Regions from separate parts of the Homo sapiens genome. Here region 2 is linked to region 1. Evidence: fine-mapped expression QTL. Tissue or cell type: whole blood. Region 1 holds a variant in brackets; the other region holds the start of a gene. All regions are shown on one strand. Distances are from middle to middle.

Region 1 (7,331 bases):
GAAAGGACAAAACGCCAGATGGAGGCGGTGTGCAGCTCTTCAATGTTTGTCCCCCTTGGCTGGAATGACCGATGACTTCCTCCTCACCCAGGATGGCTCCTGGTCACCAGGGCTGGATGCACCACCTGGCTACAGGTGGCCCTGCCCCAAAGTGGCTGCCTCCACCTTCAGCAAGAGCTCCAGAGGCCGAGAGAAGTGACGAGCCCACCGCTGATGCAGGCACTCCCTCGTCCGCTTGTGGAGTGCCCCTAACAGGCAATCCCAGGCCAGTTTTGTCGAGGACCCGGGATCAGCAGGGTCCCTCTCGCCGGCCACCTGGGCCTGCCCTCTGCCTGTCAGGTCACAGGAACACACAGCCTTGCGCCAGTGGGTGTTGGGCTGGCACCCCCTGCCCAGGGCTGTCTCCCTGCTCTTCACTCGCAGAACCTAAAGGAGGCCAGCAGAGTGGGTGGCGCAGAATGGGGACCTGGCACAGCACTGCCCTCTCCTCTCTGCTGGCACAAATCTTGCGTCTCTCCCTTCAGAACGTTGCCTTGATCTGACCTCACTGCACCACCTCCTGCCCTCACCTCCTATCTCCCAGCTCCAGCCAACACAGGCGCTGGCAGGGATTTCAGGGTTGCCACCTCCAGCCATGCTGCCCTGGGGTCCCTGGAAGATTGGGAGCCCCCGCTCTGCCTCTGTGGCTGCTCTTGCCCCGATTTCCCACAGCTTGCCCTTTCATCTCCTCCATGTTTCTGCTACCTCCTCAGCGGACCTCTCCTGACGGCCTTCTCGAAACCGCCATACTGCCCCTGCGCCCAGCTCTCCTGATCCCCTCTTCTGGATTTATTTTTTTCCAGAACATATACTTTCTGCCTCTCACAACGTGGCACACGTCTTTCAACTATCTCCCCAAACTGGAAGGTAAATGTGGACAGGGGTTCTGCCAGCACCTACAACTGTGCCTGGCACATTCCAGGGGTTCAGTAAACACTTGCTGAATGAATGATGCATGAATGAACAAATGACTACCTGTCCTCAACACTGCTCATACTGAGGCTTGTAAGGTCTACACCAGGTGCCAACAGAGCTTCAGATATGAGGACGGCAATGGTGAGTGCTCTCCCATGTCAGGACTGGGTACAGGGGCAGGGGAGGCGCCTGGTGCCTCCAAGCAAGGTGGCTCCCCGCCCTCCCTCTGGGCCCTGCTCTATCAGTCATCCTGCCCCACACTGGAGGGTGGCCAGTGAGGAAGCCCTGCACGTAGGCTGTCCCACAGGACCTGTACTCCAAGTCCCATGGAGCAGGTGAACCTGCCTCCTCGTAAGCACAGTAGCCACCCCCTGCGCCATCTCACCAGGCTGCAGAGGGAGTGAGGATGCCAGCTGGGCCTGCCTCTGCCTCAGAGCAGCCTCTCCACAGCTGGTCAATGAGTGGCCTTAAGGAGCTCCTACTTCCAGGGTGGACAGGACTGAGCAGCCCTGGCCAGGTGGGTCAGCTCGGAAAACTCAGCCAAAGCCAGCAGGAGGCCTGCCCAGCCTCGCTCCTCAAGGGAAGAGGACTGTGCTTTTCATTCTCCCTCAGCCACCCTTGAGTAGCCCAGTGCCTTATCTGTACGTTCCTTGGCTCCAAAGGCCACATGACACTGCTCTGCTGCCCTTACCCTGCCCTGTGGGCCTAGGCCACTTCCCTCCATCCCAGGCACAGGGCCAAGAACCCAGGCTTCACCCGTGTGCTGCAGCTGTCTGAGGCCTTGCAGTTCTGGAGAGCTGCGGGGCCGAGGAGAGACTGCGATACAGCAAAACCATGACGGTAGTGGATGCTGAGCTCTTCTAAGATCTGCCAGGGATGAGGGATCTGTTCAGAAAAGAACAGTTTCCGCTCCTGGATGGTGACTGTCACTCATCAGGCTCTGCACCCCTCCCCGTGCCTCTGTCCCACCTGCCACGCTGGGGCACGCACCTTGGTGGAGGGGGTCCTGCTGGTGGAGGTGGAGGTGGGAGTGAATGTGAGAGTGCTGGTGATGGTGCGGAGTCACGTTGAACATCTGCAGTCGGGCCAGGGGATCGCTGGTCAGCGATGCCATGCGCTCTGCGTGGATACGCTCGGCTGCCAGTCTGTCAGGGTAGCTCATCTCGGGCCGCAGCTGGGGGCCCGCCAGGGCCAGTCTCTCCCTCTCCAAGGGGTTCAGGCCCGGGTGGAAAGAAGCAAAAGGGTGGGGCCCGGCGGTCGGGGGGATGGTGAGGGCGCTGTGCCGGGCAAAGTGCTCCATGGGGTTGGCGGCTGGGTGCAGGGGGTCCAGCTCTGGGGGCTTCACCTCGAAGCCCGGCTTCATCCTCTCCCGCAGCTCCCGCTCTCGGATCTCCCGCTCTCGGATCTCCCGCTCCCGGAGCTCCCGCTCGCGGATGGTGGGGTCGACGTTGTAGAGGCCAGGCATGTGGTAGGCCAGCAGGGGGTCCGTGGGGTTAAGGGGCATGTAGAAGGGGTGGTTGCGGTTGGTGGGCGACATGACGTGGGGCCGGGCGTACTCGCTCAGAGTCCGAAGGGCAGGTGTGTCGGGCCCGATGTAGGGGGGCACAGCAGCAATGGTGGTTGGTGGTGGCTCGAAGGATGGCCGCATGTGGCCAGGACCACTGAGCTGTGGGTCACTGAGGCGACCTTCATGCGCTGAGCTGGACGCCTTCTGCAGAAGGAAAAGAAAGCGTGAGGGGTCCCCCGAGCGCCTGGGGTCTCCGCTTGGTCCACACTGCGGAGGTGGGCCTGGTCCTGCTCCTGGCCTGCTCTGACAGGCCAACCTGGTCCCTCCACGGAGACCCGGCCCTGCCTTGGCCTGACACCAGGATGCAGTCCAGGCCCCACAGGGTCGGGCTCACCTGTGCCCGCAGCTCCCCTCAGGCCCAGATGGGAATGTGTCCCTGTGAGACTAAGCTCATGCATGGGTTGTCTACGTGTGAGGGTTGTGTCTGGGAGTGACAGCTGGGGGGCATGGGTGAGTGAGCCCAGCAGGCCAGGAACCTCACTGGCAGTCCCTCATGCCACTTCCTGGGTTGGCTGCCCTTTCCTCCCCGCGACAGCAGAGAGCTGGCCACCACCACAGCACCCAGCCCACGAGGGGGCCACAAAGGCAGGGCAGCTGGAGAGGCCCCTCGCAGCCTGCTTATCGCCTGAGTGCTCAGGTCTTCTCTCAAGGCGCCCCCTTGTGCTTCTCCCCGACTCCTTCAAATTACTTAGAAGTTATGAACCCAAAGGCTGCAGGAGAAGGACAGGCCCTTTCCTCGAAGGCCCTCCGGTAGGAGGACGCACAGTCACTGCTGGGAGTCAGCCTAGACCTGCCATGCGCAGTTACCCCGGCAGCTTCGGATGTGCAGCACCCGTCAGAGGTGTGGAGACAGGGTGTAAATAGCACCCAACCCTCTAGCTGCCAGGAGGCCGAGTCAGGCAGCCAAGGGCAGAGCTCGGTGGCCCAGCGTGGCTCCCAGGCGCAGGATGGACCAGCGCCCCCCGTCACACCTCGCCAACCCTGGACTCACAGCCGCCCGCTCTGCCTCGCGCTCCCGCTC[T/C]CGCTCCCGCTCCCGCTCCTTCTCCTTCTCCTTCTCCCGCTCTCGCTCCTCTCGGGCTTTCTGCTCAGCCTCGCGCTTGGCCTTCTCAATGGCCTCCTCCCTCTTCTTGGCCAGCTTGGACCCGGCCAGAGGCATGAAGTACAGGTCTGTCCGGGCACACGAGTTGTAGCCCCGGTCCAGGTGTTTGTAGAACCTGAGAAAAGCCACAGATCTTGCTGGGAGCTCCTGCCGAGACCCACCCCGGCCCTCCCTCCCACCAGAACTTGCCCCCACCAGCCCACCTGTGCCTGACCCGTCCTGGAGCCCTAGGAAGCGTACCTAGCTGACTGGCTGGCGTGACTGGGGGTGTCCACCACAGTGGGCTCCGGGGACGGGCTCCTTGGTGGGGGAGGGGGGCTCTCAGGCTCCTCAGCGTCGTCCAGAGCCTCCTCCTTGATCTGGACGGTGGGGAGTGGGCAGGACGACCCCCCCGCTATGCTGCCTCCTGAAGCCGCCGCACCAGAGCAGGGTGGCTGGGCCGAGGTGCCAGGTCCCGCCGGTGGGGTAGAGGTGGAGGGGCAGGTCGGAGGGGTGATGGGAGGAGGGCCTCCAGGGACAAAGGGGTGCTGAGCAAACGGGGGTTGGGGGGCCACCTGGTGGAGGCCTGTAGGGGGGTGGGAGGCAGGGGGCGGGGGCAGGTTCTGGCTCTGGGTCAGCCCGGGGGGCTGGGCGGGCGAGGAGGGCAATGGCTGGCTCTGAGGCATGAGTTGCAGGGGTGGGGGGTGAGCCGACGGGGGGTGATGTGTGGACAGGGAGCTCAGGGGCTTCAGGGCTGGAGGGGGAGGCAGGTTGGCATTCATGGAGAAGGGTGAGGGCCCCGAGAGGTGGGGAGGGTGCTTGTGGGCCTGTGGCGCCGGCAGCTGGGGGATGGGAGTGGTAGGCGGGGGCTTGATGTGGGGCATGGCCAAGGGCGCTGGTGGCAGGGGCTGCTCCCGTGGAGGCTGTTGGGACTGCAGCGCTGACTGAGAGGCTGGCAGCTGCAGGGAGGTGTGAGGGTACGCTGCTGCTGGGGAGGTCCCCAGAGGGGCCTGGCCTTGGGAGGCCTGGGGAGGGAGGCCAAAGGGCTGTGGGGGGCCTGGGTGCTGCAGCAGGGGCCCAGCCTGCAGGCTGTGAGGGCCGGGTGGGCCCTGACCGTGCAGTGGGGGCTGGGCATGAGAGGGTGCAGAAGGCTGGCCCGCCGACCCAGTCAGAGGCTGCAGCGGGGGATGTGGCGAGGGATGCGGCGGGGGATGCGGTGAGGGCGGCCGCTGGGGGTGCAAGGCCGGTGCCTGTTGGATGTGGGTGTGGGGAACAGGCGCTGTGGGAGCCTGTGGCTGGTTAGGGGCCTGGGAGGCCGTGGGGGAGCCCTGTGGGGGAACTGCAGTGGCAGAGGGCGTGGGCCCTGGCGTGGGCAGCTGAGGGGTCCCTGGAGGAGCTGAGGAGGGAGCTGGGGTGACCCCAGTGGGAGCCTGCAAGGCTGGGGGCTGGGCCTGCAGCATCTGCTGCTGGGCTGACGAGTCCGAGTCACTCTCATTGTCCTGGGGGCTGGGGATGCTCGGGGACGTGCTGCGATTGTCCTGGTCGATGTCTTTGGGGTCACTGCTACCCTCATCGTTGACGCTGCGACTGTCTGAACTCTCTCCCTCACCTTCAGATGGCGAGTTGGGCCTGCTGATCTCCTGGAGTCAGAGAAGGGAAGGATGGAAGTCCCAGGAGGGCAGAGCCCTGTCTGCTCTGCACCACCAGTGCCGGACACACAGTAATGTTTGTGCAGATGAAGCAGCAAGCTTGGCTCCGGGACCACAGGTCGTGCCCTGACCCAGCCAGTGTCAAAGGCCACTCCAGCCCCACCCTAGGAGACAGGGCACGGCCACCAACTAGGGAGAACCCCGGCTGGGGGCTTCTGAAGAAGCATTAGCTTTACTCAGCAAGGCTCAGCAGCAAACCTCACCTGCGTTTTTGTCTTCTTGGAGCTGGTCCTGTCAGCCTCCTCCGTATCAGAGGCCACCTTCTCCCGCTGGCGTTTGTTACTCTTAAGAGGGGAAGAGGCTTCCTCCTTCACCTTCTGCAGGGGAAAAGCCCACAAGGAGCAATCAGGCCAAGGGAGACCATCCCATCAGCCTCAGCAAGGAAATGACGGTTTGCAGACACTTTGCTCCCTCATTCTGAGTTCCATCTCCAGGAGCAAAAAGCTCTAGAAGGGTCAACTGGGGCCAAGAAGGAACACGTATCTGGGGGTGGGAATGAGAGCCAGCCCTCTGCACCTGTGGGTTTGCATCCTCAGATTCAAGCAACCATGGACTGAAAATGTAGGCAGGACTGTGATGGTTACATCTATACTGAACGTGCACACAATGTTTTCTTGTCATTATCTCCTGAACTAGACAGTGGAACCACTGTTTAAACTGCATTTACATTGCACTGGGCAGTAGAAGTAACCTAGGGATGATTTAGAGTCTACAGGAGGATGTGACTGGTCACATGCAAACCATGTGTCGATGTATATGAGATTTGAGCACCTGTGGATTTTGGTATCCTGGGCGGTGGAGGCTCTGGAGCCAATCTCTAATGGATACCAAGGGAGGACTGTACTTGGCTCTGGAGGGAGCCGTTCTAACCACTCCCCACACTTTCTGAGAACTTGGGAAGCTTGAGGCAGAGGTGGCCCCCAAGAGTTGGTGCTCGAGCCCCCTTCTCTAGGCCCCCAGCCTTCGGTCTGCAGCCCCTAGGCCAGGACAATGCTGGTGTCCAGACAGGCTCCATGAATGAGCTGCATCCTCGTGTCTGAGGGAGCTGATCACGAATACCAGCAAACCAGTTTTAATGTGAGGGAGGGACAGAGTAGGCCCTACTATCCCCCCAGCACCTGACCTTGGCCGACTTCTTCACTGTCTCTGCTTTACTGTCATTGCTGGAGGTACTGGCAGCGCTGGGGGAGTTCCGGCCGCTGGAGCGGATGTCTTCATTGATGGGTGAGGTGCGACCATCAGGGCTGGCTGGCTGCTTCTTCCGACCACTGCGTAGTGTCGACATCTGCCCACCCAAACCGAAGACTGGTGACACCAGATTCCCAGTCCCCATGTGGACCCACCTGAGCCCAACCCACAGGCAGAAGCCTGAAGGCACACCCTATCAGCCTCTCAGCAAATCCCAGACCTTGGCAAACAACAGGCCGCCCTGCCTGTCCCTGGCTGCATGAAGGTCGGTGTGGAGCTCAGGGAAGAGGTGGGGAAATCAGTGGGCTCACGCCAGAGGGCGGTTCTCAAACCTAAAGCACTCATCCCAAGGGACTGTCCTGAACAACGTGTGCTGGAAATGAACCACACTTTCTGAGCGGCAGAAAGTCGCCTGGGGCCATCTTTAAAGCACCCTACACCCTTTCTGTTTATTCCTCATAACCGTCCATTCTCCCAACCAAACCAAATGAAATCAAACACTTGTGGATTTAATCTGACAGGACAGGAAGTGACCCAAAGAGATGAAGCTGTCAAGTAAAGCAGCTCAGCTCCCCAAGCCGCCAAGCGCTTCAGCATGTTTCTGCAAAGCCATGAGGGCTCAGAAGAGATCAGGAGACAATGGTTCTGGCTGGTTGACCTGCTCCCTTCTGAGTGAGCGGGGGCCGGGCTGCCAGCAGCCTCAACGGCATACAAGGGGCAGAGGAAAGTGGATGGTCCCACCCACCTGCCAGAAGGGGCCATAAGGGAGGCTGAAGGGAAAGACCCTGTCAGTACCCTCAGCCCCAAACCTGGAAAAAGCCTCTCCCAAAGTCCC
Region 2 (5,000 bases), 460 kb after region 1:
ACAAAAGCAATGAGAGCTGAACGTAAGGCCACAACATATAAAGAGGGATTTTATCTTTACATATACAAAAAAGAAAGAGCAGCAGAAACCACGGCTGCAAAAGGAATAAAGGGAGGCAGAGAGAAGAGAAGTCTCTGAACATGTTTTTGAGTGTCCTTTAGTTTCCAATGCACTCTTCTGCCTCACAAGGTTGCAAAAACGGCCAGGCATGAGATGGGTGGAAGAAAGCTGTAACAGAAAAGCACCCTCCCTTCCCCCATCTTCTCTCTTCTCTCCCAAAAAGAGCTGTGTTTGTCTGTGCAAACCTAGTCCCAAATATGGGAGAGAGAGAATGAATGTGTGTATGGAAGAACAATGAGCCCTCAGCTTGGTATTGTGTGTGTGTGTATGTGTGTGTGTGTGTGTGTATATGTGTGTCTGTCTGCCTCTGCCTCTTTTCCCTTCGACCTCAACAACAACAGGGAGAGCTGGAAGCCAGCTTTCCACCCATCCCAGGCCATCAAAATCAAAACTGGTTGATAATTTACAGTAGTATTAACTCAGCAAGCAAATCCATGGAACAAAATATCAACCCAAAGATGATTTTATTATTGTACAGATCCAGCTTCTCTCCCCTCCCCCAACAGACTGAGACTAAAAAGACCAGTGTACACTAGACAAAAAGGTCTCTCTTTAAATGGAAAGCAATTATGAAAACTGTTTCAAATCTTAGATGCATCAATTCCTGCTATATTAAAATGTCTATTTTGTAATTCACCAAGTTCACCCTCTTACTAGTTATCTTTTTTTGCGTTTAAAAATTCGCTGTGAAGAAGGCTATTTCACGATTCATACAAAACTACTTTCTAAATGTACCTTAAAAAAGCAACAGATACTGAAACATTTAAAGCACCCAGTTTCTCAAGGACCCATTTTACTTAAATCAATGTTTGAAGTCTGTAATCCAGAAAAATTGTAAGCAAACCTTGGAAAAGAGACAGAGGAAAATGACAATTCAACAATGAATCATTCTGTTTTCCTTTCAACAACTTCTCAAGCAACCAGTTTCAAAGGAAGCCTGCAACACTTTTCCCCCCTCCTAGCAGACACACATACACACGTGTATGTAAAACTACGAATCTTTCCATCATCTTAAAAATTAGTAATAAATAGAAGCCACCCTCCTTCAGAGAGCAGAACTAAAACAGGATAGTAAGAATTCTATTCTGCTGCAAGTGACTTTGGGTTTCATAATTTTCTAATCACATACAGCTGAGAACTAGAGATTGGGAGCACAAAGAGGAAATCTTCCCCCAATGAGAAAATGATACTTTAATAATAAAGTCCTCCCCCCAGCACCCCGAAATCCACAAACATTCAAGAAATTTACAGTTTCAGTCCTTGACTTCCTTCCCTTCCAGTTTCAGCCAATAATGTAGTCACATGAAATAGTTTAACCTCAAACAAGTAGAACAAGAGCATGAATAAGAGGCCAAGAGAGAGCAGGGGTCAGAAGGCACGCAGGAACGGTCACCTGGCCCGGACAGGACCAAAGAAGTGCCCTGCCCTCGCCCGACTCCCCTCGACTTCGGCTTCGACCCCAGCCTTTTCTTCCTGCCTCCCCCCGGGCGAGTGACTGCTTTCACGGCCGACCCTCTCTGACCACCAGGACGAGGGGCCAAAAAAGAAAGCACACGACCCGGCGCGGGCAAGTTGGACACTTACCTTCCCCTAAAGCGCTACACCATCAATAGTGAGGTGTTCGCGGCCCAGCTCCGGGGAAAGTGGCGGGGATGGGGCGGGAGGCCGCGCGGAGGCTGCGGGGCCGCGGGGCGCAGGGCCGAGAGGGGCGGCCCGCGGGGAGGCGACGCGGAGGGGCTGAGGGGGCTTCCCTGCCGTGACCTTTCCTGCGACTTGAACCTAGGCTCCCTCCTCCTCGGTCGGGCAGATCTTTCAGAAGCAGGAGCCCAGGATCATGTCTGGTTTTGTTTTCCGAGGGCGAGGGGGCTCCCTGAGGATGATGGTGATTTTTTTTTTTTTTTAATCCTCAACTAGGAGAGAAAATGAGGCAGAGACAATGTGGGGAGCGAGAGAGGGGAAAAGGACGGGGGAGGAGGCGGGGACCGAGGCCCAGCGGGGCGAGCGTCTCGGGGTGTGCGGGAGGCTGAGGAGGCTCCGGAGCGCGGAGGGTTGCTCGCGAGCGTCTGTGGGAACAGCGGCACCTCCGCGATGGTGGCGGAGCCGCGGCGGAGCTGCTGCACCGACCCGCCGCCCACTCCCCGCTCGGGCCCGGCCCACCTCGCAGTATCGCGCCCCTCCATTGGTACAGCGCGGTGTGACGCGGCCGGGGGCCCGGCCAATGGGAGGCGGAGGAGGCGGGATCTCTTTTTCCTTTTTTTTTTTTTTTTTTTTTTTTTTTTAATCTTTTTAATAAAATGAGCAGAGAAGAAGGCGGAGAGAGGCCGAGCCTTGACAACGCCGCGGCCCGGGGCTCGAGGGCTCGCGCTGCAGGCGGCGGCCAGAGGCGGTGGGCTGGGCTCCCGCCGCGGGCGCGTCTTTGTGAGAGTGCGAGGCCGGCCCTCCTCCGCCGCCCGCCGCGCTCCAGTACCGCCCCCCGCGCCCCCCGGGCTGGGCCGGGCTGGCGGCGCGGGCAGGTCCCGGGTGGGGTGGGGGGAAGTCCGGTTGATCTTGCTGTTACCCGGGTCTTAATTGGCCTTTTCAGTCATTAGGACGCGGATCCATGTTGCTGCGGGCTACAGAGTGGGTGTAAACCATTCTCATATGGACTCTTTCGAAATTCTGATGAGCGGCTTGTAATATTTTTCAAATAGTGTACATGACAAAAGATGAATTACAGAAAGAAAAATAAAAGTGATAAGTCGCACTGCTTATTTGAAAAGAATAAAAAGTGTCATGAAGGCATAAAGGAGAGACTGTACAGGTACAGAAGGGATTTTAGAAAGAGCAGTGTACAACTCTATAAGGTACGTGTGAAAAAAAATCTAAAAAGAGGAAAAGACCAAACATCACCTCTTTTTCTTTGAAGAATGAAGTATTGTGTCCCACTTCCCGAAAGCCTGATAATCACAGGGTCTATCATGCTGTAAAGGGAGTAGGGGCAGGCCAAATGATCATATTCTAGTTCATATAATTTATGGGATTGAGGGGTTTGGAAATTTCAATTATGATTAGCAGTTTTTGAAATGCACATCATGTTTATTGAGTTCTTTCACAGAGCCTGGCACGAATCCAGGGTGAATCATCAACCTATTGTTGGTTTGTTAATATTCTGTAAATGCTTATTGGTGTCCTTATACCATACACTCTTCCCGAAGGAGTTAAGGTCCGTATAAAATAAGGGGTAGAAAACGTAGCACAAAATAATTCACTCATCTGTTTCAAAAGAAGTGATAATTTTCTCCTTGGAAAATCTATTCAGATTATAATTTCCACATTGAATTATTCATTTTTTTTTTTTTTCTGAGAGGGAGTTTCACTCTTGTTGCCCAGGCTGGAGTGCAATGGCGCGATCTCGGCTCACCGCCACCTCCGCCTCCTCAGTTCAAGCGATTCTCCTGCCTCAGCTTCCCGAGTAGCTGAGATTACAGGCATGCGCCACCACACCCAGCTAATTTTGTATTTTTAGTAGAGATGGGGTTTCTCCATGTTGGTCAGGCTGGTCTCGAACTCCTGACCTCAGGTGATCCGCCCGCCTCAGCCTCCCAAAGTGCTGGAATTACAGGCGTGAGCCACCGCACCCGGCCCACATTCAATTATTCTTTAAAGAATAATTTGGACTAACAGATACTATTGGACCATGACCCAAGAGATCTTAAAAAAAAAAAAAAAAGCCATAGATCCTTGCCATCACATTTCTGAGTAACTTTCAGCAAGAAAAATCCTCTTTGCTGGAGTTATGAAATGGGGAAACTAGTTAATATCTCTTTATATATCTGATAATGTGAGAACTGAATTTTAAAACCTAATAAATTCAATAAACTGCTTCCAACATTCTAGATATGGATAGGACTATCTGACTTCCTGTTTGGAAATGATGAGGGATAAAGTATATCAGTTAGATGGCTTCACTTTCCATCAAAATCTCTATCTACAGGAGCATTCTTTCTTTTTTTTCTTTTTTTTTTTTTTGAGACAGAGTCTCGCTCTGTTGCCCAGGCTGGAGTGCAGTGGCACGATCTCAGCTCACTGCAACCTCCACCTCCTCGGTTGAAGCGATTCTCCTGCCTCAGCCTCCTGAGTAGCTGAAATTACAGGTGTGTGCCGCCACACCCAACTAACTTTTGTAATTTTAGTAGAGATGGAGGTTCACTATGTTGCCCAGGCTGGTCTCGAAACTTACAGGAGCATTATTTCTAATAAAGATTCAGCTCTGTGGTAGACAAATGGACAATGCACTGCCATCCAGCAGGGAGGAGAGAGGCTCTCCACGTTAGGAAATAACATTTACTATGGTATTAGGGATTGGCCGTCACTTTCATTTATCCATAAAAATGTAAATTTAGAAGTCCAGAAATGCCACATAGTTACAAAGCATAATATATGGTATCAGACCACAAAATTAGCAAACTAAACCCATTTAACTGTAACAGTCCCACGAAAGAATTGTGGTCCAGCCATAAAGCCGGAGAGTACTGGACCTCCTTCCAAGGATCTGAGAAGCTGATAATGCAGTAAAATAATCTTCATCGTTAAGAACAACTATTAAACTATTGATTGAAAGCTTATGTTCCCAGTGCCCTAAGAAACATGTTACATTCTTTAGCCCACTTTTTCTCCCCATGAAGTGTATTATTATTATCTCTTTTTTTTTTTTTTTTTTTTTTTGAGACAGTTTCGATCTTGTTGCCCAGGCTGGAGTGCAATGGCGCGATCTCAGATCACCGCAACCTCTGACCCCCGGGTTTAAGCGATTTTCCTGCCTCAGCCTCCTGAGCAGCTGGGATTACAGGCATGTGCCACCATGCCCAGCTAATTTTGTATTTTTAGTAGAGACAGGGTTT

What was found. PIP is the estimated chance that this variant, and not a neighbour inherited with it, causes the effect.
Region 2: it holds the start of RERE, and the variant in region 1 is fine-mapped to the expression of RERE in whole blood (TOPMed, PIP above 0.99).

What each region holds. Positions count from the first base shown.
Region 1 is chr1:8,356,252-8,363,582 of GRCh38, forward strand. It overlaps RERE (arginine-glutamic acid dipeptide repeats), which reads right to left. Exons shown (of 23, transcript NM_001042681.2): 16 at 6,432-6,593; 17 at 5,512-5,625; 18 at 3,861-5,239; 19 at 3,513-3,735; 20 at 1,945-2,665. Among named protein-coding and RNA genes, the nearest start is that of SLC45A1, 42 kb to the left of the region's middle. RefSeq lists enhancers at 2,986-3,487, 3,488-3,987. The variant T/C (reference allele first, on the strand shown) is at 3,543.
Region 2 is chr1:8,815,456-8,820,455 of GRCh38, forward strand. It overlaps RERE (arginine-glutamic acid dipeptide repeats), which reads right to left and starts at 2,185. Exons shown (of 23, transcript NM_001042681.2): 1 at 1,705-2,185. RefSeq lists silencers at 1,783-1,842, 2,093-2,392, 2,493-2,722 and an enhancer at 2,135-2,429.